4 linked regions of the Homo sapiens genome follow. The gene in region 1 interacts genetically with each later gene. Each region holds a gene or a part of one and is shown on either strand. Other genes may lie near its edges. The genes, in order: EIPR1, CTCF, RPRD2 and SEC23IP.

What was found.
Region 2: changes in EIPR1 (region 1) and CTCF are lethal when combined (synthetic lethality), as found in Homo sapiens cells (one study listed by BioGRID).
Region 3: changes in EIPR1 (region 1) and RPRD2 are lethal when combined (synthetic lethality), as found in Homo sapiens cells (one study listed by BioGRID).
Region 4: changes in EIPR1 (region 1) and SEC23IP are lethal when combined (synthetic lethality), as found in Homo sapiens cells (one study listed by BioGRID).

Annotation. Positions count from the first base shown.
Region 1 is NC_000002.12:3,367,783-3,374,818, reverse strand, and holds part of EIPR1 (EARP and GARP complex-interacting protein 1), read left to right. Parts: intron 1-7,036. UniProt on the Homo sapiens protein: Acts as a component of endosomal retrieval machinery that is involved in protein transport from early endosomes to either recycling endosomes or the trans-Golgi network.
Region 2 is NC_000016.10:67,635,516-67,639,703, reverse strand, and holds the end of CTCF (transcriptional repressor CTCF), read right to left. Parts: intron 3,015-4,188; coding exon 2,853-3,014; intron 2,017-2,852; coding exon 1,832-2,016; 3' UTR 527-1,831; downstream 1-526.
Region 3 is NC_000001.11:150,465,129-150,472,164, reverse strand, and holds part of RPRD2 (regulation of nuclear pre-mRNA domain-containing protein 2), read right to left. Parts: intron 1,605-7,036; coding exon 1-1,604.
Region 4 is NC_000010.11:119,895,729-119,902,764, forward strand, and holds part of SEC23IP (SEC23-interacting protein), read left to right. Parts: intron 1-2,698; coding exon 2,699-3,231; intron 3,232-7,036. UniProt on the Homo sapiens protein: Plays a role in the organization of endoplasmic reticulum exit sites. Specifically binds to phosphatidylinositol 3-phosphate (PI(3)P), phosphatidylinositol 4-phosphate (PI(4)P) and phosphatidylinositol 5-phosphate (PI(5)P).

The sequences.
Region 1 (7,036 bases):
CACTGACTTCCACAATGGTTGAACTAGTTTACAGTCCCACCAACAGTGTAAAAGTGTTCCTATTTCTCCACATCCTCTCCAGCACCTGTTGTTTCCTGACTTTTTAATGATTGCCATTCTAACTGGTGTGAGATGGTATCTCATTGTGGTTTTGATTTGCATTTCTCTGATGGCCAGTGATGATGAGCATTTTTTCATGTGTCTTTTGGCTGCATAAATGTCTTCTTTTGAGAAGTGTCTGCTCATATCCTTTGCCCACTTTTTGATGGGGTTTTTTGTTTTTTTCTTGTAAATTTGTTTGAGTTCATTGTAGATTCTGGATATTAGCCCTTTGTCAGATGAGCAGGTTGTGAAAATTTTCTCCCATTTTGTAGGTTGCCTGTTCACTCTGTTGGTAGTTTCTTTTGCTGTACAGAAGCTCTTTAGTTTAATGAGATCCCATTTGTCAATTTTGGCTTTTGTTGGCATTGCTTTTGGTGTTTTAGACATGAAGTCCTTGCCCATGCCTATGTCCTGAATGGTAATGCCTAGGTTTTCTTCTAGGGTTCTTATGGTTTTAGGTCTAACGTTTAAGTCTTTATTCCATCTTGAATTAATTTTTGTATAAGGTGTAAGGAAGGGATCCAGTTTCAGCTTTCTACATATGGCTAGCCAGTTTTCCCAGCACCATTTATTAAATAGGGAATCCTTTCCCCATTGCTTGTTTTTGTCAGGTTTGTCAAAGATCAGATAGTTGTAGATATGCGGCATTATTTCTGAGGGCTCTGTTCTGTTCCATTGATCTGTATCTCTGTTTTGGTACCAGTAACATGCTGTTTTGGTTACTGTAGCCTTGTAGTATAGTTTGAAGTCAGGTAGCGTGATGCCTCCAGCTTTGTTCTTTTGGCTTAGGATTGACTTGGCGATGAGGGCTCTTTTTTGGTTCCATATGAACTTTAAAGTAGTTTTTTCTAATTCTGTGAAGAAAGTCATTGGTAGCTTGATGGGGATGGCATTGAATCTATAAATTACCTTGGGCAGTATGGCCATTTTCACGATATTGATTCTTCCTACCCATGAGCATGGAATGTTCTTCCATTTGTTTGTATTCTCTTCTATTTCATTGAGCAGTGGTTTGTAGTTCTCCTTGAAGAGGTCCTTCATGTGCCTTGCAAGTTGGATTCCTAGGTATTTTATTCTCTTTGAAGCAATTGTGAATGGGAGTTCACTTATGATTTGGCTCTCTGTTTGTCTGTTATTGGTGTATAAGAATGCTTGTGATTTTTGTACATTGATTTTGTATCCTGAGACTTTGCTGAAGTTGCTTATCAGCTTAAGGAGATTTTGGGCTGAGACAATGGGGTTTTCTAGATATACAATCATGTCGTCTGCAAACAGGGACAATTTGACTTCCTCTTTTCCTAATCGAATAGCCTTTATTTCCTTCTGCCTAATTGCCCTGGCCAGAACTTCCAACACTATGTTGAATAGGAGTGGTGAGAGAGGGCATCCCTGTCTTGTGCCAGTTTTCAAAGGGAATGCTTCCAGTTTTTGCCCATTCAGTATGATATTGGCTGTGGGTTTGTCATAGATAGCTCTTATTATTTTGAGATACTTCCCATCAATACCTAATTTATTGAGAGTTTTTAGCATGAAGCGTTGTTGAATTTTGTCAAAGGCCTTTTCTGCATCTATTGAGATAATCATATGGTTTTTGTCTTTGGTTCTGTTTATATGCTGGATTACATTTATTGATTTGCGTAGATTGAACCAGCCTTGTATCCCAGGGATGAAGCCCGCTTGATCATGGTGGATAAGCTTTTTGATGTGCTGCTGGATTCAGTTTGCCAGTATTTTATTGAGGATTTTTGCATCAATGTTCATCAAGGATATTGGTCTAAAATTCTCTTTTTTGGTTGTGTCTCTGCCCGGCTTTGGTATCAGGATGATGCTGGCCTAATAAAATGAGTTAGGGAGGATTCCCTCTTTTTCTATTGATTGGAATAGTTTCAGAAGGAATGGTACCAGTTCCTCCTTATACCTCTGGTAGAATTCGGCTGTGAATCCATCTGGTCCTGGACTCTTTTTGGTTGGTAAGCTATTGATTATTGCCACAATTTCAGATCCTATTATTGGTCTATTCAGAGATTCAACTTCTTCCTGGTTTAGTCTTGGGAGAGTGTATGTGTTGAGGAATTTATCCATTTCTTCTAGATTTTCTAGTTTATTTGCGTAGAGGTGTTGGTAGTATTCTCTGATGGTAGTTTGTATTTCTGTGGGATTGGTGGTGATATCCCCTTCGTCATTTTTTATTGCGTCTATTTGATTCTTCTCTTTTTTTCTTTATTAGTCTTGCTAGCGGTCTATCAATTTTGTTGATCCTTTCAAAAAACCAGCTCCTGGATTCATTAATTTTTTGAAGGGTTTTTTGTGTCTCTATTTCCTTCAGTTCTGCTCTGATTTTAGTTATTTCTTGCCTTCTGCTAGCTTTTGAATGTGTTTGCTCTTGCTTTTCTAGTTCTTTTAATTGTGATGTTAGGTGTCAATTTTGGATCTTTCCTGCTTTCTCTTGTGGGCATTTAGTGCTATAAATTTCCCTCTACACACTGCTTTGAATGTGTCCCAGAGATTCTGGTATGTTGTGTCTTTGTTCTCATTGGTTTCAAAGAACATCTTTATTTCTGCCTTCATTTCATTATGTACCCAGTAGTCATTCAGGAGCAGGTTGTTCAGTTTCCATGTAGTTGAGCGGTTTTGAATGAGTTTCTTAATCCTGAGTTCTAGTTTGATTGCACTGTTGTCTGAGAGATAGTTTGTTATAATTTCTGTTCTTTTACATTTGCTGAGGAGAGCTTTACTTCCAACTATGTGGTCAATTTTGGAATAGGTGTGGCGTGGTGCTGAAAAAAATGTATATTCTGTTGATTTGGGGTGGGGAGTTCTGTAGATATCTATTAGGTCCGCTTGGTGCAGAGCTGAGTTCAATTCCTGGGTATCCTTTTTAACTTTCTGTGTCGTTGATCTGTCTAATGTTGACAGTGGGGTGTTAAAGTCTCCCATTATTATTGTGTGGGAGTCTAAGTCTCTTTGTAGGTCACTCAGGACTTACTTTATGAATCTGGGTGCTCCTGTATTGGGTGCATATATATTTAGGATAGTTAGCTCTTGTTGTTGAATTGATCCCTTTACCCTTAAGTAATGGGCTTCTTTGTCTCTTTTGATCTTTGTTGGTTTAAAGTGTGTTTTATCAGAGACTAGGATTGCAACCCCTGCCTTTTTTTGTTTTCCATTTGCTTGGTAGATCTTCCTCCATCCTTTTATTTTGAGCCTATGTGTGTCTCTGCACGTGAGATGGGCTTCCTGAATACAGCACACTGATGGGTCTTGACTCTTTATCCAATTTGCCAGTCTGTGTCTTTTAATTGGAGCATTTAGTGCATTTACATTTAAGGTTAATATTATGTGTGAATTTGATCCTGTCATGCTGTTAGCTGGTTATTTTGCTTGTTAGTTGATGCAGTTTCTTCCTAATGTCGATGGTCTTTACATTTTGGCATGAGTTTGCAGCGGCTGGTACGGTTATGCCTTTCCATGTTTAGTGCTTCCTTCAGGAGCTCTTTTAGGGCAGGCCTGGTGGTGGCAAAACCTCTCAGCATTTGCTTGTCTGTAAAGTATTTTATTTCTCCTTCACTTATGAAGCTTAATTTGGCTGGATATGAAATTCTGGGTTGAAAATTATTTTCTTTAAGAATGTTGAATATTGGCCCCTACTCTCTCCTGGCTTGTAGAGTTTCTGCCGAGAGATCCGCTGTTAGTCTGATGGGCTTCCCTTTGTGGGTAACCCGACCTTTCTCTCTGGCTGCGCTTAACATTTTTTCCTTCATTTCAACTTTGGTGAATCTGACAATTATGTGTCTTGGAGTTGCTCTTCTCGAGGAGTATCTTTGTGGCATTCTCTGTATTTCCTGAATCTGAATGTTGGCTTGCCTTGCTAGATTGGGGAAGTTCTCCTGGATAATATCCTGCAGAGTGTTTTCCAACTTGGTTCCATTCTCCCCATCACTTTCAGGTACACCAATCAGGTGCAGATTTGGTCTTTTCACATAGTCCCATATTTCTTGGAGGCTTTGTTCATTTCTTTTTATTCTTTTTTCTCTAAACTTCCCTTCTCGCTTCATTTCATTCATTTCATCTTCCATCACTGATACCCTTTCTTCCAGTTGATCGCATCGGCTCCTGAGGCTTCTGCATTCTTCACATAGTTCTCGAGCCTTGGCTTTCAGCTCCATCAGCTCCTTTAAGCACTTCTCTGTATTGGTTATTCTAGTTATACATTCGTCTAAATTTTTTTCAAAGTTTTCAACTTCTTTGCCTTTGGTTTGAATTTCCTCCTGTAGCTCGGAGTAGTTTGATCGTCTGAAGCCTTCTTCTCTCAACTCGTCAAAGTCATTCTCCGTCCAGCTTTGTTCCGTTGCTGGTGAGGGACTGCGTTCCTTTGGAGGAGGAGAAGCGCTCTGCTTTTTAGAGTTTCCAGTTTTTCTGCTCTGTTTTTTCCCCATCTTTGTGGTTTTATCTACTTTTGGTCTTTGATGATGATGATGTACAGATGGGTTTTTGGTTGGATGTCCTTTCTGTTTGTTAGTTTTCCTTCTAACAGACAGGACCCTCAGCTGCAGGTCTGTTGGAGTTTGCTAGAGGTCCACTCCAGACCCTGTTTGCCTGGGTATCAGCAGCGGTGTCTGCAGAACCGCGGATTTTCGTGATCCGCGAATGTTGCTGTATGATCGTTCCTCTGGAAGTTTTGTCTCAGAGGAGTACCCGGCCGTGTGAGGTGTCAGTCTGCCCCTACGGGGGGGGTGCCTCCCAGTTAGGCTGCTCGGGGGTCAGGGGTCAAGGACCCACTTGAGGAGGCAGTCTGCCCGTTCTCAGATCTCCAGCTGCGTGCTGGGAGAACCACTGCTCTCTTCAAAGCTGTCAGACAGGGACATTTAAGTCTGCAGAGGTTACTGCTGTCTTTTTGTTTGTCTGTGCCCTGCCCCCAGAGGTGGAGCCTACAGAGGCAGGCAGGCCTCCTTGAGCTGTGGTGCGCTCCACCCAGTTCGAGCTTCCCGGCTGCTTTGTTTACCTAAGCAATCCTGGGCAATGGCGGGCGCCCCTCCCCCAGCCTCGCTGCCACCTTGCAGTTTGATCTCAGACTGCTGTGCTAGCAATCAGCGAGACTCCGTGGGCATAGGACCCTCCGAGCCAGGTGTGGGATATAATCTCCTGGTGCGCTGTTTCCTAAGCCCGTCGGAAAAGCGCAGTATTTGGGTGGGAGTGGCTCAATTTTCCAGGTGTTGTCTGTCACCCCTTTCCTTGACCAGGAAAGGGAACTCCCTGACCCCTTGCACTTCCCGAGTGAGGCAATGCCTCGCCCTGCTTCGGCTTGCGCACGGTTCGCTGCACCCACTGACCTGCGCCCACTGTCTGGCACTCCCTAGTGAGATGAACCCGGTACCTCATATGGAAATGCAGAAATCACCCGTCTTCTGCGTTGCTCACGCTGGGAGCTCTAGACCGGAGCTGTTCCTAGTCGGCCATCTTGGCTCCTCCCTGAAATATTATTTTCTGAGGTTTGAAAAATGAATGAAATTGATTCTCTAAGGTAGTCAAATATATTATTGGATTTTCTTCTTTATCTTAAAAGAAGTAGCTGACTTTTGCTACTTGGATTTTATCGGATAGTATCATGGACCAAGACTTTCTTAAGTTTGAAGAACCATCATTGCAGTAAACAAGAAAACTGAAAAGGATAGTGTTTTTTTTTGTTTGTTTGTCAGTGACATTCAAATCCCATGGAGAACACTTTACATGAAAGGATAGAGATCTGATCGTTGACCGCTGAGTGAAGGTAATGACACTTGAAAGATAAAGGGCAGTACTGCAACTGCAAATAAAAGACCAACACGGAGGGTCGTTAAGATCGCAAAATGCTGAGCAAATTCATGGTAATGATTCTGGATTTTTTTATAATTATATTTGAAATGCATGAAATTTCAAATGATATTTGAAATGCTTTTGCACACTTTTAGTTTACTGCTCAGTAGAAATCCATTTTCTCAATATGAGTTTAATGAATACTTGTCAGTTAACACAACAGTAGTTCTTTGTGACTATCTCAAAGTGCATACAAACAGTATGACTTCTCTCCTGCAATCATGTTTCTTTGAACTTTTGACATTAATAGATCTTCTTTGTTGTGTGGGTCAAATCTCCATGTGGCAAACTTGCCTTGTGATGGGAACAGTGAACCTCTAGGCAGTGGTGGCTCTGCCCATGTGTAGGTCTGGGGGCAGGCATGTGACTAAGATGGACCAGCGGCAAGCAGGGCCTGCAGGTGTGGGCAGAGTGAGGGCTACATCTGCCAACTCCTATTTGAGCCCACTGCTGCCAAGTGAGCTGGGCCAGACCAGAAAGGACGGTCGGGGTGGGAAGGTGGGTGACAATGATGACTTGGGCTTGTTTCAAGTTGCTTTCCCTTCGGTTTACCACCAAAACCAGGAAGCAAGCAGGGCAGGTTGTAAGCCACACAAGGATATGCGTGCCTCCTTTCTGTTCTGGGAGGTTCTCCTGGAGTCCTGAGATCAGTGCAGTCAGGTCAGAGGGGCAAAGAGACTGTGGGCTTTTGGCTTTTTGTGCCATCAGTCTGAGGGACAGATGGACCAGGCCAGCGCTTCAGGGTCTGCCTGTTGCCAAGTGAGGAAAGACTTTTGAAATGGAAGATGGAGATTAAATTTTCTTTTCTTTTTTCTTTTTTTGAGACAGAGTCGCTCTGTCACCCGGGCTGGAGTGCAGTGGCGCGATCTCAACTCACTGCAAGCTCCGCCTCCCGGGTTCACGCCATTCTCCTGCCTCAGCCTCCTGAGTAGCTGGGTCTACAGGCGCCTGCCACCGCGCCTGGCTAATTTTTTGTATTTTTAGAGAGGGGGTTTCAGGGTGTTAGCCAGGATGGTCTCGATCTCCTGACCTTGTGATCCGTCTGCCTTGGCCTCCCAAAGTGCTGGGATTACAGGTGTGA
Region 2 (4,188 bases), on another chromosome or scaffold:
TTAAGAAGTTACAGCAGGGGCCGGGTGTGGTGGCTCACGCCTGTAATCCCAGCACTTTGGGAGGCCTAGGCAGGCGGATTACAAGGTCAGGAGATCGAGACCATCCTGGCTAACACAGTGAAACCCAGTCTCTACTAAAAATACAAAAAATTGGCCAGGCATGGTGGCAGGCGCCTGTAGTCCCAGCTACTCGGGAGGTTGAGGCAGGAGAATGGCGTGAACCTGGGAGGTGGAGGTTGCAGTGAGCTGAGATTGCGCCACTGCACTCCAGCCTGGGCAACAGAGCGAGACTCCATCTCAAACAAAACAAAACAAAACAAAACAAAACAAAAAAACAGTTACAGCAGGATGCGCTCAATATCCAGTCACCCGCCAAGATCATATCGTCCCATCTGCTAGAGAAAGTACCATCCCAGGGAACAGAGGTTGCCTGTGAAAGGCAGCAGCCTGCACAGCCTGGAACCATGTATGCAGCCCCCCAGCCTCCCTCAAGCAGGCAGGAATCACGCAAGATGGAGTCTTTGGAGCACTTGTTAATCCGTTATGATTTATTAGCTGTACAGCAGTAGATCCTCCTCCCCAGCTTTCAACCCCATTACATATTTTATTACAGGTCTCATGTTGGCGTCCTAAAATAATGAAAAATATCACACAGTACAGCTAAGTACAAAATGCATCAACCTAGAGTCTGATAGCTAACTGATGGCTCTCTTAAAAGCAATACACAGAAGAAAAAAGTGTTTGAAATCAGTAAGACTGAGGCTCTCTAAAAAACACATTTTTAAACATGTGACAGTTCATGTGCAAGAATCACTTTTTAGTTGGTTTTGCTTCACATTATTTTATTTTTTGAAGATCCAAGGTTTAAATTACTGACCTAGTGAAATTTTCTGGCCCAGCTTATAAGGGCTGCTGTGAACCACTCATAATCACCCTTCTGCCTTAACAGAAGATTTATAAAACACAACAATCAGCTACAAACAGGGCAAAGAAAATGTCGATGGGAAATCATAACTGAAAGTTAATTATACAAGGTTCAAATGCTGGCTCCGTGGGCTGGAAATCATGATCTGCCACGTGCATGTCCGTCACTGGTGGGCAGTGGTCTGGGTGCCATTCTGCTACATGATTGTGATCCAATTCCTTGTCAACATTTACACACTACAGAGTCTGTGGTAACTTAATTTGCAAGTAATTAAAATGCTGGGTTTTCTTACACTGCACTTCTTTTCAACCTCTTAATTAATGGAAAAGATTAAAATGTAAAAAAAGTTATTTACAAGCTTGACCATACCAGAAACTTTGCCAAGAAAGAGGCAAAGCTTTCAGGACAGAACCTGATCGTAGCATGCCATACTACTGGTGTGCAGCTGACTCCAAGCAAAGGGAGTCAGGGAAAAGCAAAAGCAAAAAACAGTTTAAAACTCTAAGTCCTTCCCAAGTATGCATTTACAATTAAAAACTCTCTTGGGAAGAAGACCATAGAACTCTGGGAAGCCTGGTGGCCATTCTGGAGTGGTTTACCACATGGAGGGAGGGGTCAATGTCTCCGTTTCCATCTAGGAAAACGAGTTAGTTGTCAACACTGTCCTCAGCACTTCACAGTAAACCCTCAGGGACTCAGAACATTCCATGATTTGCTAACATCAGACAGCAAGTTCTAGTTAAATCACATTTTTTTCTAACATCATCCTTGAAGTTTTCGTTCTCGGTATGTTTGGTAAAATGATGCTTTTCCCAAAGCCAAAAAAAGAAAGAAGGGAGAAAAATTAAGATGCGGGCCGTTTAAACACAGCCCAGAGAAGTCCTGGCGACGCACAAGGCTCCGCCATCACCGGTCCATCATGCTGAGGATCATCTCGGGCGTGAGGTCTCCGTTGGGGGCATCTGTGGCAGCTGGCTGGGCCTCCTCTTCCTCTCCCTCTGCGGGCTCAGCATCTGGCTCTTTTTTTACTTCAACTATAATGTTCTCAATTGCACCTGTATTCTGGTCTTCAACCTGAATGATAGCTGTTGCTGGCAAAGAAGAGCACAGACAGAACAAATGGTCCATTAAAGCCCCAAGAATCACAAGGGTCTTTTAGACTGACAGCGAACGGGATGTCAGCAATGCAGGACAGCCTTATTAGATAGCGGTCCAGAGACAGTCAATTTATTTTTTATTTTATTTTTTGAGACGGAGTCTTGCTCTATGACCAGGCTGGAGTGCACGGGCATGATCTCAGCTCACTGCAACCTCTGCCCCCCGGGTTAAAGCAATTCTCCTGCCTCAGCCTCCTGAGTAGATGGGACTACAGGTGCCCACCCCTACGCCTGGCTAATTTTTGTATTTTTAGCAGAGATGGGGTTTCACCATGTTGACCAGGCTGGTATGGAACTACTGACCTCAGGTGATCCTCCCGCCTTGGCCCCCCAAAGTGCTGGGATCACAGGCATGAGCCACCGCCTGACCCTGAGTTTCTTAGAAGGGGCAATCTCAGTGCAGAAACTGCTTTCCCTCTCCAACCTTTACGATTTGGCTCTTTTATATTCATTACCGCATCCATTCTGCCAGCTGACTGTGACTTTGGTTGTTTTTCAAAACCCGCCCACATTAACAGTACCCATCTTGCAGAACACAAGTACCCTTCTACTCTGGACTTCTTCTTGAAATGTAACAGGCCTCTAAAGACTTCCTCAGATGTTCCTCAGTAAAAACTCCTAAAAAGCCATTTCCTGAGAGTTTGTTCTCGACATGCCCTTAACTTGTTCTCATGGCTTAGTTCCCACATCCCCAAAGAACAAGGACCCATCTGGCTCCCCCACATGCTCGGAGAAGACGCCAGCCTCCAGAGCAGAGATGAACAACTTACGCTGGTTCTGTTTGGGCTGGTTGGTTCTGCCAGGGGGTCGTCCTCTCCGCTTCTTGGCGGGTGGTGGGGCTGGGGTCACAGGCTGAGGCTCTGGCTCAGGTTCAATTTCTACGGCAGGCTCCTCCTCATCCTCATTGTCGTCCAGATCTGGTTCAGCATTTTCTTTTCATGAAATCAGGAAGCACAGGTGGTGGGGCAAGGAGAAGGGTGGTGGAAGATGAAAGAAAACAATTATATATTATTTGAAGTCTTGTTTTATAAATATATATATATATATATATACACTTTCTTTCTTTTTTTTTTTTTGAGACAGTCTCACTCTATTGCCCAGGCTGGAGTGCAGTGGCGCGATCTCGGCTCACTGCAATCTCTGCCTCCCAGATTCAAGCAATTCTCGTGGCTCAGCCTCCTGAGTGGCCGGGACTACAGGCACGCACCACCATGCCCAGGTAATTTTTTTTTCCTTCTTTTTTTTTTTTTGAGACAGAGTCTCACTCTGTCGCCCAGGCTGGAATGCAGCGGCACGATCTCAGCTCACTGCAACCTCTGCAACCTGGGTTTAATTCTCCTGTCTCAGCCTCCTGAGTAGCTGTGACTACAGGCATACGCCACCACACCTGGCTGATTTTTGTATTTTTAGTAGAGATGGGGTTTCACCATATTGGTCAGGCTGGTCTTGAATTCCTGACCTCAGGTGATCCACCTGCCTCGGCCTCCCAATGTGCTGGGATTACAGGCATGAGCCAACGTGCCCAGCCAATCCAGATAATCTTTGTATTTTTTGTAGAGATGGGGTTTCGCCATGTTGGCCAGGCTGGTCTCAAACTCCTGACCTCAGGCAATCTGCCTGCTTCGGCCTCCCAAAGTGCTGGGATTACAGGTGTGAGCCAGCATGCTCAGCCAATTATTAAGAAAAATCAATTTAAGGCTGGGCACGGTGGTTCACACTTGTAATCCCAGCACGTTGGGAGGCTGAGGTTGGAGGATCACTCATGTTCAGGAGTTCAAGACCAGCTTGGGTAACATAGTGAGACCTTATCTCTACAAGAAATAAGAAACTGGCAGCTGGGCGTGGTGGCTCACACCTGTAATCCCAGTACTTTGGGAGGCTGAGGTGGGTGTATCACCTGAGGTTGGGAGTTTGAGACCAGCCTGTCCAACATGGAGAAACCCTGACTCTACTAAAAATATAAAATTAGCTGGGCGTGGTGGCGCATACCTGTAATCCCAGCTACTCGGGAGGCTGAGGCAGAAGAATCACTTGAACCTGGGAGGCGGAGGTTGCGGTGAGCTGAGATCCGCCACTGCACTCCAGCCTGGGCCACAAGAGTGAAAC
Region 3 (7,036 bases), on another chromosome or scaffold:
TAAGCAGGAGGAGGAGACGCGGGTTTCTATGCGGTAGTGCTCTTCTTGTTGCTGCTGATCAGTGGCGGTCAAGCTGGGTTGGGTGAGGTTTGAGAGACTGACACCATCACTTGGAGTGCCCTTGCTGGGAGCCTGGCCAAAATGCTTATCATCTGAGGGCTTACGTGAGGCGTTTTTAAGCATATTCTTAAATTCAATCGTCGACGTGGTGGAAATGGTGGAGGCCAGGACTTTCTCCACGCCTGACGTGGGTGGGTGACCCGTGGGAGCGGCAAGGGTGTTCTGCGGAGAGAAAAGGGAACGATGTGGGACTGGGTGAGGAGAGTCTGGGTACTGCTTCTGTGGCAAACTGAGATGCCCAGTGGTAGATTGAGACAAGCTATTGTGGTTGGAGTCAGGGGTGAAAAATGAATCATTCTTACTCGGTGATGGTGACCGGTCAGACCCAGGTTCATTCCCTCTTACGCTGAAGGCACCAAATAGCCCAGGGGAAGATGAGAGACGGTCACAGTTCTCACTAGAGTCCAGGAGGGCCCTTACAGATGGAGGGAAGGCAGACTTTACCCCAAATTCTTGGGCTCTGTGGCTATAACTGGACAGAATTGGCTGGTACTCGGTGGTATCAGACAGCTTGCTTGATTTCAGGATAGATTTGGCTGGTTTCTTCTCTAGGTTCATCATGGCAGAGGGTGGAGGCCCTGAATACTCAAAATCTCGGTAATCCTCATCTTCTTGGAAAGAAGTATCTGGGTAGAACTTTTCCTGTGAAGAGTCCATCAGGGAAGATGGTCTCTCCATTCCATCAGAAGGCTGCTTATAGGGAGATTCACTGCCCAGACCAAAGGGTCGATATGTAGATACAGAATTGGAGAGCTCTCGGGGGTAGCTTTCATCTCTCCCAGGGGGTGGTGATCTTGTACTGCTGGGTGTTGAGGAACCAGGGCTAATGATCTTAGAAAGCAGGGACATAGTATCTACACTGCTGGATGTGGGCTTGTCCATCATCTCATCCTGGGTGGGTGTCCCACTCCGTTCATCCCGTACAGGGGTTCCATCAATGTTGTCGATTGAGGTGCTAGTAGGGCCACGCTGGAAGTCTGAGGGATGGCTCTCTGATGGGGCGCTGGACCCCAAACTGCTCAGGATTGGGATGTTTAAGTTTAAGCCACTGAAACCAGGATTACCTTTTAAGAAGTTGTGAATCTTCATTTCCAGGCTTGGGGAGGTGGACTCTGACTCCAGCTTTGGCTTGGAGACCTCTGAAGATTGGCAGATGGTAACTTCAGTAGGTGGGGCAGCAGGGCTAGTATTGTGGGTAGCTGTAAACCCCAAAGAGTTGGAAGGTAGTTTAAAAGTAGTGCTTGGGAGCCCTGGGCTTTGCCCAATTGAGGCCTTGCTGGCTGAAGTTGAAGAGACTTCAGAAGTTGATGAGTTAGGAGAATAGTTGAAGCTTTTGGGAATAAAAGGTTGGGCACTGGAGGGCAGATTTCTTCCCTTTATGGTAGAGACTGTGGTGTTGGCAGGGGAGGCTGAAGTGCTCTGTGAGGCAGCTTCACTGGCTGGAACTGGGTTCCCAGTAACACTCTGAAGTAAAGATGACAGGCCTGTAGAAACAAAGATTAGAGGGGTTAAAAAGAACAACTCCCTATCATACAATGCAAACAATGTAGGCTAATCAGATACTCTCATTCATTTTGGTGGGAACCAGATAGACAAAGTGTAAGGCCAAAAGGAATCCAGACCAAACAAGCAATGGCTAAATGTCACAGAAAATACAGGGCCTATTTTATCAATAAAGAGCAAATCACTGAAATGTTTCCAGTACAGTCCAGAAATCAGCCCAACATGGCACAATAAAAGGCAACAGGAAGGGGGAGATTTTAATGTCAGAATCATTCATAGTTTAAGTTAGGCAAAGCAGGAAAAGAAAGGAGGCAAAGTTATTCTTAAAACAACACTTTAAGCCAGTATTTCTTAATGTTTGATCTGTGGAAGTGTTTCTCTAAATGCAAACAGATCTGTTCTACCTTTCCTGTCCAACCTTCAAACCAACCTTCAACCTTCAAACTTATTATCTCTAATAAGTTAATATACATTGTTATTTTCAAGCGGGAGACAGGCAAATGCAAATTTCAGAAACTTATCTGAACAGCAAACACCTTTTTCAAGAAGCACCTCTTGGTAGACTGTTGTTACTTTTTGAAAAACAATGCTTTCAACCATCCGTTTTGGTTGTAAAATGTAGCTATAACAAACATACACCACAAAGACTTACAAAGACAGACCACCAGGGACACTGGTCCTTTCACAAGAAAACACACAATCCCCATTTTATAGTGTGGAAAATCCAAGGATTATTTAGTCCAGATTGACAATGATGGAATTTAACTGTGTTCACTGACAGTCAAAACTTTCTCAGAAGCACTGAGAAAGAATTCTTTGGGGCAAAGGCTGAAGTTCAACAAAGCAAACTGCTCCTGTAGAAAATTTTTTAGAAAAATATTTGACAAAAAGATAACAGAAGGTTCTATAAATTCAATCATATTTTTAAAAATTTACCCAATTTCTGGTCACAAATGAAGACTTTTGGCTGGGCACGGTGGCTCATGCCTGTAATCCTAGCATTTTGGGCAGCAGAGGCAGGAGGATGGCTTGAGGCCAGGAGTTTGAGACCAGCCTGGGAAACACAGAGAGACTCTGTCTCTAAAAAAAATTTAAAAATCAGCTGGGCATGATGGTGCATGCCTGTAGTCCTAGCTACTCAGGAGGCTGAGGCTGGAGAATCACTTGTGCCCAGTTCAAGGTTACAGTAAACTAACTATGACTCTGCCACTGCACACCAGCCTGGGTGGCAAAGTGAGTCTCTGTATTTAAAAATAAATTAATTAAAAAAATTTTTAATATACATTTCACCCAAATTTATAGCTTTTAGTCACTGAATACACTAACATTGTTCCTTAGTAATTATATGATTAAAGAAAATACTTCATGTGATATTTCAATTAACATTTCTTCAAAATTTCAATTTTAACCCATATTCTAACAGATTTGGCCTAAAGAATTTCAAGTCCCCTCCATCCTTGTAACATTTTAAAGCCATTTATTTCTAAATAATGTTGGATGGTCTTTATTGTTATCCAATATTCAGTAATATCCAAACAACTGAAATAATGTTTACTTTAGTTATGATCCTTCTGAAGAAAAAAAAAAATCGGCATGTTTCATTCCAAAAAAAGTTCCCTAGCCACATAATTCATCCCTACTAATAGTTTCCTTTTTTTTTTTCAAGAGACAGGCTCTTGCTCTGTCACCCAGGCTGGAGTGCAGTGGTGCGATCATAGCTCACTGTAACCTCAACCTCTTGGGCTCAAAAGATTTATCTGCCTTAGCTTCCTGAGTAGCTGGGACCACAGGTGTACATCACTATGCCCAGCTAACTTTTTTATTTTTAGTAGAGACAAGGTCTCACCATGTTGCGCAGGCTGATCTCAAAATCTTGGGCTCAAGTGATTGTCCCACTTCAGCCTCCCAAAGTGCTGAGATTACAGGCGTGAGCCACCATGCCCAGCCTGATTTAATTCTTAGTAATCACTGTTCTCACAAAACCCAGAAGTCCTCAAACACTAGAATGTGATATATAATAATGTAATATGATTTTTAGAAGATATTTCAGCATATTTTTCAGATATTTTGGGATAACTTCTTCAAAAGAACATCTTTTTAAGATAGATATACTACTCAGATTTCTGGTAATAGGTAAAATTGTCTCTCACCACTAAATATTACTGTTCTCCAATCTTTTTTTTTTTTAATTATTTTTAAAAATTCTTAAAAACAATAGAGATAGGGGTTTTGCTATATTGACCAGGCTGGTCTCAAACTCCTGGCCTCAAGTGATCCTCCCATCGTGGCCTCCCAAAGTGTTAGGATTACAGGCATGAGCCACTGCGCCCAGCCAAAAGTTTGCTCTTTAATCATAACAAGTCATACTCTGCTCCTTTGCCCACTGAAGTTTCTCTTTTTTTGAGACAGAGTTTTGCTCGTCGCCCAGGCTGGCTCACTGCAACCTCTGCCTTCCGGGTTCAAGCGATTCTCCTACCTCAGCCTCCCAAGTAGTTGGGGTTACAGCTGTGAGCCACCACGCCCAGCTAATTTTTTTGTATTTTTTTTTGGAAAGACAGGTTTACCCTGTTGGCCAGGCTGGTCTTGAACTCCTGACCTCAGGTGATCCACCCGTCCCCAAAGTGCTGGAATTACAGGTGTGACCCACCACACCGGGCCTGAAGTCTCTCTTTTGTGTTATAAATCTGTCAATACCTAGGGCTGTGGATGACACAATCAGAACAAAGTTCTGGGATTTCATTAACAGTCTTCGAGGAAATACATCTATTTAACTTGCTAGATACAATCCTTTTAAAAGTCAAAGAGAATTCCACATTCCATAAGGAACCTAGTTCTGTTCAAATTTTGCCTCATCAGAAATTTCACATCGGCCAGGCACGGTGGTTCACACCTGTAATCCCAGCACTTTGGGAGGTCGAGGCAGGTGGATCACGTGAGGTCAGGAGTTCGAGACCAGCCTGGCCAACATGGCGAAACCCCGTGTCTACTAAAAATACAAAAATTAGCCGGGCATGGTGGTGTGAGCCTGTAATACCAGCTACTCGAGAGGCTGAGGCAAGAGAATCACTTGAACCCGAGAGGCAGAGGTTGCAGTGAGCCGAGATCACACCACTGCACTCCAGCCTGGGCAACAGAGCAAGTCCCCGTCTCAAAAACAAACAAACAAATAAAAATAAAAAGGGAGAAAGCATAAACATGTCAAACTCTCAAATTGTCCCTGATATTAGTAGTACAACATGTGCTGCAGTCATCATCAATTCTTTATTGCTGATGCCAATAGATAGGGGCTGTGGATTATTACTTAATACTATTTAGTTCTGTGTAACAAAATTCTTCTGCACCTCCAGACAAAGTTCACTATAATATGCTTGAATGATCCACTTACATAACAGTTTAGGAAACTGTTTTACACCACTCCTTTGATAGAGAGCAGGGTTTCTCAACCTCAGCACTACTGACACTTTGGGCTAGATAATTCTTTATTGTTGGGGCTGTCTCACACATTGTAGGATATTTAGGAGCATCCTCCTGGCCTCTACTCACTAGAGGCAGTAGCACCCCTACCATTACCCCAGTTGAGACAACTAAAAAGGTCTCCAAATATTGCCAAGTGTCCTCCCTGGAGGCCTTTGGTTGAGACTACTGATATAGAGTAAATCACTACACTGAATATATTGCCCTGGTATTTGTAATTCATTTCATAATTATACTACGGTACTTAAAAAGGATTTCATTGGTATCTGGAGCATAAGAGAGTAGAGAGTAGGAAAGATTTATGAAAAAAGGTTAGAAACAGGCAGTGTCATGCACAAAACATAATTAGTAAAGCTGAACAGAAAGGGTCAAATGAGAGAGATTATAGGTAGGTGAAAACAAAAATACTACATCTAAGACTCTAATAAAATAATAAATAAAATAATAAATAATGAAGCCTCTATAAAACATTAGGACAAAAAAAGATATATTCATGTCTCAGAAATTTTTTTTTTTTTTTTTTTGAGGCAGGGTCTCATCACTTAGGTTGGAGTACAGTGGGGTGACCACAGCGTACTGCAGCCTTGAACTCCTGGGCTCAAGTGATCCTCCTGCCTTAGCCCCCTGAGTAGCTGGAACTACAGGCATGCACCACTATGCCCAGCTAATTTTTTTTTTTTTTTTTTTTTTGAGACAGAGTCTTGCTCTTTTGCCCAGGCTGGAGTGTAGTGGGGCAATCTTGGCTCACTGCAACCTCCACCTCCTGGGTTCACACCATTCTCCTGCCTCAGCCTTCCAAGTAGCCAAGACTACAGGTGCCCGCCACCACGCCCGGCTAATTTTTTGTATTTTTAGTAGAGTCGGGGTTTCACTGTGTTAGCCAGGATGGTATCGATCTCCTGAACTCATGATCCGCCTGCCTCAGCCTCCCAAAGTGCTGGGATTACAGGCGTGAGCCACCGCGCCCGGCGCTAATTTTTAATTCCGTTGTAGAGACAGGGTTTCACTATGTTCTTGAAGCGTCATAAAAAAATTTTTTTTTTTTTTTTTTTTTTTGGACTGAGTCTTGCTCTGTCGTCCAGGCTGGAGTGCAGTAGCGTGATTCCGGCTTACTGCGATCTCAGCACACTACAGGTGTGTGTCACCACACCTGGCTAATTTTCATATTTTTAGTAGAGATGTTATTTCACCTGGTTGGCCAGGCTGGTCTTGAACTGCTGACCTTAGGTGATCTGCCCGCCTCAGCCTCCCAAAGTGCCGGGATTACAGGCGTGAGCAACTGCACCTGGCCATATTTTTTGATAATAAATGGACCCTTCCTACTGTCTTCAGCTTTGGTTAACACTGAAATTAATAAAACTCAACATATATAAACCTGTATTAAAAGCTGGGACTAATGCAGCCCCTAGGGTGTCATGGTGTAGGTGAAAGAATACTGAACTCCAGTCAAGAAATCTGGCCTTCAGTCTTGGCTCATACTGAATAGACAGATAGGTATGTGACCATAAGCAGATCTTTTCACCTTACTGAGCCTTAGTTTCCTTACCTGAAAAGTAAGGGATTAGACTAGATAATACTTAGTCTCTTTCAGCTTTCACATTTTATAATTCTTCAGATGTCAGCTCATAGATGATAAATATAAAAAAAATAGGAGGGGCGCAGTGGCTCACGCCTGTAATCCTAGCACTTTGGGAGGCTGAGGTGGGTGGACTGCCTGAGGTCAGGAGTTCGAGACCAGCCTGGCCAACATAGCAAAACTCCGTCTCTACTAAAAATACAAAAATTAGCTGGATGTGGTGGTGGGCACCTGTAATCCTAGCTACTTGGGAGGCTGAGGTTGCAGTGAGCTGAGATTGGGCCACTGCACTCCAGCCTGGGCGACAAGAGTGAAATTCTGTCTAAAATAAAAAAAAGGATAATGACCACCAGGCATGGTGGC
Region 4 (7,036 bases), on another chromosome or scaffold:
AAAATCTTCAGATTTGGCAGGAGTTAGTGGTTGGTGGAATGGGACAGGGATGGAGCTCATCCCTCTCTCCTGTCCCTTCACCTTTGTCTCCTCTCCCCTGTGTCCTCTGCCCCCAGTAGATCACTTTGACTAGAGTGTGTGCAGTGGAGTGGCCTCAGTGATCTATGGGCCACATATGCCATACTCAGGAGGAGTTTGTAGTTCATCTTGTGGGGTGTTGGGGAGCCTTTGAAGGATTTTCAACAAGGCAGTGAAATTAGACGTGTGTTTCAGAAAGACTGGAGTTTTCTCTAGTCGCACTGGAATAAGGTTGACTGTAGCAAGAGGATTCAGTTGGGAGGCATAGTGAGAGGCTGGCAGTGGCTATGGCAGTCTAGCCTGAGTCAGCCACATTGGGTGTGAGGAGCAGGGAGCAGATGTGCGAGATGTGTGGACTATACAGTTGTAGAGACTCACAGAAGACCAGAGTGTCAGCTCTGTCTGTCAGAACAGAGGCCCATTTTTGTTTAGTTTTAGACCCAAGACTGAGCTCTGTACCTGGCACAGAATGCATCCTGAGTAAATATTTCTTGAATAAATATTTGAATGATTAAATGAAGGGTTTGAGAGAGAGGGAGGAGTCTCAGACTTGAGGTTTCTGGTTTGAATGTCTGAATGAATGTTGGCAAACATCTGTGGAGATTGTGAAATACAGAAAAGGGAGCATGGAGGTGGGTAGTTAAGATAAACTCCGTTTTAGGCTTACTAAGCATGAGGTATATGTGACTGAATCTGCCAAAAACATTGAGGAAGTAGTTGGAAAACAAGTTCTGGAACACACGAGAATGGTCTGGGCTTACGATGGAGTTGGGAGTGTCACAAATATACAAGTGCCTGTTAAAGTTGTGGCTTTAGATGACATGTGTCCAAATGAAATGAGAAAGTGCCCCTGAGGTGAGGGTAGCAGTATATGGAGAGCACTTCATTTGTAGTTGATGCTAATCAGAAAAAAAGTTTCTCGGACCAGGTTGACCTCAAGTTTTTCTAAAGGATGAAAGATACCACTGAGTTTTTTTTTTTTTCATTCTTTTAATTGTTGGGAATGAACTAAGAAATACAAATAAGTCCAAGTGAGGGTCACTGACCTGAAAAGAGGGGTGGGAGCTGGAAATATATCAGAGAAGTGGAATGATTCAAGTAGACACAAGGCCTTGTGCAGCAAGGGATATTTTATTTTTAGTTACAAAGAAACTACCAAAAGGAGTATTTTGAATGGTGGAGTATTTTAGTTAAACTGATGTGTGTAAATAATGAGAGCTCAAGAAGCTCAAGCCCTAGTCTCAGCAGAGGTCAAGAAGCTTGGAGCCCGGAGCTTGGAATAAGGCTGCCTGTTGGCAGGTCTCCAAGGGCAGGGACCGAAGTGTGCCTGTGTGCTGTGAGTGAGTCCAGCCCTCTGATGGATTCCATGCCTCCAGCAAGGAGGTAAGAGGGAATGAGGCAGGAGCAGGGAAGATTAGGAGGAGGAATATGAAAGCTACAAGCTAGGGAACATAAAAGTTTCGTAAGGAATAATAGTAACGTGGACTTTTGAGGTGATATACAGGGAAGATGCTTTTATTTTACAACTTGGTAGTAGAACAGAAGCTAAATTATTTGGAGTCGTTAATACCCACAGTGAACATCAAGTTGGGCAAAGGGATGGGAGATCTTCCCTTGGTTAGAAAGTGACCTTCTCAGCAATTTGGTATTCTGTAATGATAAGTCTGTGATAGTGCATGATTTTAGGGAATGGCAATTAATGGTTGACCTACTTGGGAATACAAATACCACGTGTTCATTTGTACAATAAGTGCTTTGTAGGTGAGATTCCTGACACACCCCTTCTTGTCAACAGAGTTATCTTTAGTCTCTTGTTATCACTATAGAAATAAAAATATATGTATTTGGGTAGTCGAGTAACAGTTGAATTATTTCTTACCAAGAAAAAAAGATAAAAAATAATATGTAAGGCTGGGCACGGGGGCTCATGCCCGTAATCCCAGCACTTTGGGAGGCCAAGGCAGGCAGATCACTTGAGGTCAGGAGTTCAAGACCAGCCTGGTCAACATGGTGAAACTTCATCTCTACTAAAAAAAAAAAATACAAAAATTAGCTGGGTGTGGTGGTGGGTGCCTGTAATCCCAGCTACTCGGGAGGCTGAGGCAGGAGAATGGCGTGAACCTGGGAGGCGGAGCTTGCAGTGAGCTGAGATTGCGCCACTGCACTCCAGCCTGGGCGACAGAGCGAGACGCCGTCTCAAAAAAAAATAAAAAAAAAAAAATAAATAAAAATAGTAAGTATAGATTTTGTTTCTATTTTTAAAAACATATACAAATATATATTTACAAAATAAATAACTATTTGTATTTATTTTAGAAGTATGGAAGGGTATGTAGCAAAATGTTAACAGTGTTAACAGCGTGATTGTCTCTGGCAGGTGGGCTTATGAATGAATTATAATTGTTTCCTCTTATGTTTTCTTATTCATGTTTTCTAGTTTTTCATTTCTAAGAAGCAAGTTTTCAAAGAAAAAAAGAAAAAACTGTTTTTTTCTGTAATGCAGAAATAGCAAGTTTGAAGAACAAATAAGGAAGTATAATTGCTAGCCCTTCCTTATAGAATCGTATCTGCGGAGTGATAGAGTACCCTTTAAACCACATGCTCTCCTGTTCCATTTCAGAGGATTCCACAGATGTTGGTGAGGAGGACAGCTTCCTTGGTCAGACTTCTATTCACACATCTGCCCCACAGACATTTAGTTACTTCTCTCAGGTATCAAGCAGCAGTGATCCTTTTGGGAATATTGGACAGTCACCATTAACAACTGCAGCAACCTCAGTTGGACAATCAGGATTCCCCAAGCCCCTGACTGCTCTCCCTTTTACAACTGGATCCCAAGATGTCTCGAATGCATTTTCACCATCCATTTCGAAGGCTCAACCTGGTGCTCCACCTTCCTCACTGATGGGAATAAATTCTTATCTGCCTTCTCAGCCAAGTAGTCTCCCTCCTTCATATTTTGGGAACCAACCCCAAGGAATTCCCCAACCAGGATACAATCCATATCGCCATACCCCTGGCAGCAGCAGGGCTAATCCTTACATTGCACCACCCCAGCTGCAGCAGTGCCAAACACCAGGCCCTCCTGCTCATCCTCCACCTTCTGGACCCCCTGTTCAGATGTACCAGATGCCTCCAGGATCTTTGCCACCGGTATGGAGACATGATTTTGTGTCCTACTTATTCACTCTGTGTCTTCTTTCTCACCTGAACCTATGTTTTAAAAAACATTTCACATCTTATAATCAATATGGTGACAAATTAGTTTCAGAGGGTATTCTTTGTAAGCTACATGAAGTAAACATTGTCTTAAAGATAGCTTATTGGATGGCTCATATTTTAGTGTATATTACCTGTTTATTGAAGCAGTAACTGATTTTAATGAGTTAGCTACGTGTCAGTATTTCCAGATTTTAGAGTACGGTAAAAATAAGTGTTGTCTAGAGACATAGGAGAATTGAAGCGGTTATTGTCTTAACAGACTGCTAGTTTCTCATCTTTCAATTACACTAGTCAATCAAAACACTCAATTACAGGGACTAAAATTGATTACTTCAGTAATTTCTTTATGGAGTTTGGATCTAGATCAGTCAAACTCTATCTAGGGAGAGTTGGTGGAATAACGTATGCATTGGGTAAATTTCATGAAATTCCCTTATGCATTTTTCCCAACTAATTGTTTATTTGATTTCCAAAGAAAAATCAACAGAATTAAACAAAAAGAGAAATGATTAAAAAGAATTAAGAACCCATTTCAGTGTGGTGGAGATAGCAGTATTGTGATCAGAATGTAACTAACTTCTCTGTTAGAGATAGAGAATGGACTCTGTTTTATCATTTCATTTAAATCATACCAATACACAAATTTTTGACAATGTTGGATTTCGGCATTCTGAAAAGTAACCAGATTCATAGCATGTGGTATATAGTTAGTATTTTTGCTAACTATAACAAACTAATTGTAGTTTGTTGCTTAAATTTTTAAAAAGGTTTTTAGATAAAAGTTTAAAAAATGATAATTTCAAACTTGAAGAAAAGTTGCAAAAATAAAAAGAGTACAAAGAGCACTCTAATATCCTTTACTCAGGTTTACTTATCATTAACATTTCATCCCGTTTGTTTTTTAATTTGTGCATGTGCACACCCTGGCATATGTGAGCCCTCCCTCTTCCCCCATCCCTTTCTCCTGCCCCTTCCTCCTGCTTCTCCTCCTGCCCCTCCCTCTTCCCTCCCTTCCCCTCATCGTTTTTTTCTCTTTCTGTATATATGCAATTTTGGGGGGAATATTTGAAGGTCAGTAAAATACATTATGATTCTTTACTCCTAAATTCCTGGTGTACATTTGCTAAGCATAAGGACATTCTTCTTATGTGCACAGTGCAGCTATGAATCTCAGGAAATTGAGTGTTGATGTAATACTTCAAAATGATTTTTTAGAAATTATATATGTGTATGTATATGTACGTGTGTGTGTATGTGTGTGTGTGTGTGTATATATATATATATAAAATTTTTTTTTTTGAGGCCAGGTCTTGCTCTGTCACTCAGGCTAGAGTGCAGTGGCATGGTAACGGCTCACTGTAGCCTCGAATTCTCAGGTTCAAGTGATCCCCCTACCTCAGCCTCACCAGTAGCTGGGACCACAGGCACATGCTGCCATACCTGGCTAATTTTTTTTTTATGTTTTGTAGAAATGAGGTCTCACTATGTTGCCCAGGCTGGTCACAAACTCCTGGGCTCAAGCAGTCCTCCTGCCTTGACCTCCCAAAGTTCTGGGATTATGGGCTAAATTATATATTTTTTTGAGACTGGGTCTCACTCTGTTGTCCAGGTTGGAATGCAGTGGCGCAATCACAGCTCACCTGCAGTCTCAAACTCCTGGGCCTCAAGTGATCTTCCTGCCTCAGCCTACCAAAGTGCTGGGATTACAGGTGTGAGCCACCACACCTGTCCCAAAATGGTGTCTAATTAAAAAATTTTAAAATAAGTCTAGTCTGATTTTAAAATCGTTTTTGTAGAAAATTTGAAAAATGCAGAATACTCAATTTAATAAAAAATGTCCATAGATAACCACTGTTTTCATTTTGTTATATGTCTTTTTTTGGCAAACATATAATACCTATGGTTTCTATAATCTATTTTTTTTTTGTGTGAACATACTTTAAATGTTACTAAGATTTTTTCTAAAACATTAAAATTTTTTTCTTTTTCTTCTTCTTTTTTTTTTTTTTAAAGAGTGGGGGGGGGGTCTTGCTCTGTCATCCAGGGTGGAGTGCAGTGGTGTGATTACAGCTCACTGCAACCTTGAACTACACTTCAGCCTCAGGAGTAGCTGGGACTACAAGTGTGCCCCACCATGTCCGTGTGATTTTTAGATTTTTTTGTAGAAACGGTATTGCTGTGTTGCTCATGTTGGGCTCAAACTCCTGGCCTCAAATGATCCTCCTTCCTTGGCCTCCCAAAGTTCTGGGATTATAGGTGTGAACCATCGTGTCTATCCTCTAAAACTTTTATTTTTGTTTATTTACTTATTTTTTTTTTTAGCTATCTCCTGCAGAAAGGATATAAGACATTTTTAATGGCGCTGGAGGATCTAGCATTTGAGTTAAATATTATTTAATCAGGTTTCTGTTAGACATTTTGATTATTTCCAGTGATTTCCTATTTTATTTATTTTTTTGCAAACATTCCAAATTTATTAGCTATGATTTTATAATCAACATTATTGAGGTATAATTTACATACAGTAAAAGGCATCCATTTACAGTATACAATTCGATTTATTTAAAGTGTACAATTAGCTGAGTTTTGACAGTTGTACACACCAATTTCCTATTTTAAATAACCTTTTGATGTATATCCTTGGGGATAACTTTTTATTTTTATTTTTTATTTATTGTTTGAGACAGAGTCTCTGTCACTCAGGCTGGAGTGCAGTGGTGCAGTCTCAGCTCACTGCAACCTCCGCCTCCCGGGTTCAAGCGATTCTCCTGCCTCAGCCTCCCAAGTAGCTGGGATTGCAGGCCTGTGCCACCACGCCCAGCTAATTTTTGTATTTTTAGTGGAGACAGGGTTTCACCATGTTGGCCCGGCTTGTCTCGAACTCCTGACCTTAGGTGATCCACCCACCTCAGCCTCCCAAAGTGGCAGGATTACAGGTGTGAGCCACTGCACCTGGGCTATTTGTTTTTATAATTCTATCTTTAGGATAAATTTTTAGAAATGGAATGAGTAGGTCAAGGAGTAGGCACATTTTAAAGGTTAAATAGGCCGGGTGTGGTGGCTCACACCTGTAATCCCAACACTTTGAGAGGTCAAGGCGGGCTGGTCACTTGAGGTTGGGAGTTCGCAACCAGCCTGACCAACCTGGAGAAACCCTGTCTCTACTAAAAATACAAAATTAGCTGAGTGTGGTGGCGCATGCCTGTAATCCCAGCTACTTGGGAGGCTGAGGCAGGAGAATCGCTTGAACTCGGGAGACGGAGGCTGTGCATTGCGCCGTTGCACTCCAGGCTGGGCAAGAAGAGCAAACTCCGCCTCACACACACAAAAAAGGTTAAATAAATCATGGGAGATGTATTGCTAGATTGATTTCTGTAAAGGTGTTAGTTTACTTTGTGTTCTGTGAGAAGGTCTGGTTCACCTTGTAATTGATTTTTTTCTAAATTTTTTAATTTTTAATTTTTGTGGGTACATAGTAGGTATATATGTTTATGGGTTACATGAGATATTTTGATACAGGCATGCAATGTGTAATCATCACATCAGGATAAATGGGGTATAGATATCCCTCACCTCAAGCATTTATCCTTGATTTGGGGTTTTGTTAGGTTTAAAAATTCTTCTTAAAATTGCTTTGGGGTCTAGTTATTACACTAAGTAATTGTCCAGATATACATGTAGGATAATCTACTAACATCAGTTTGGGTGTGAAGCATATTCAGAATTCTTTTGGACA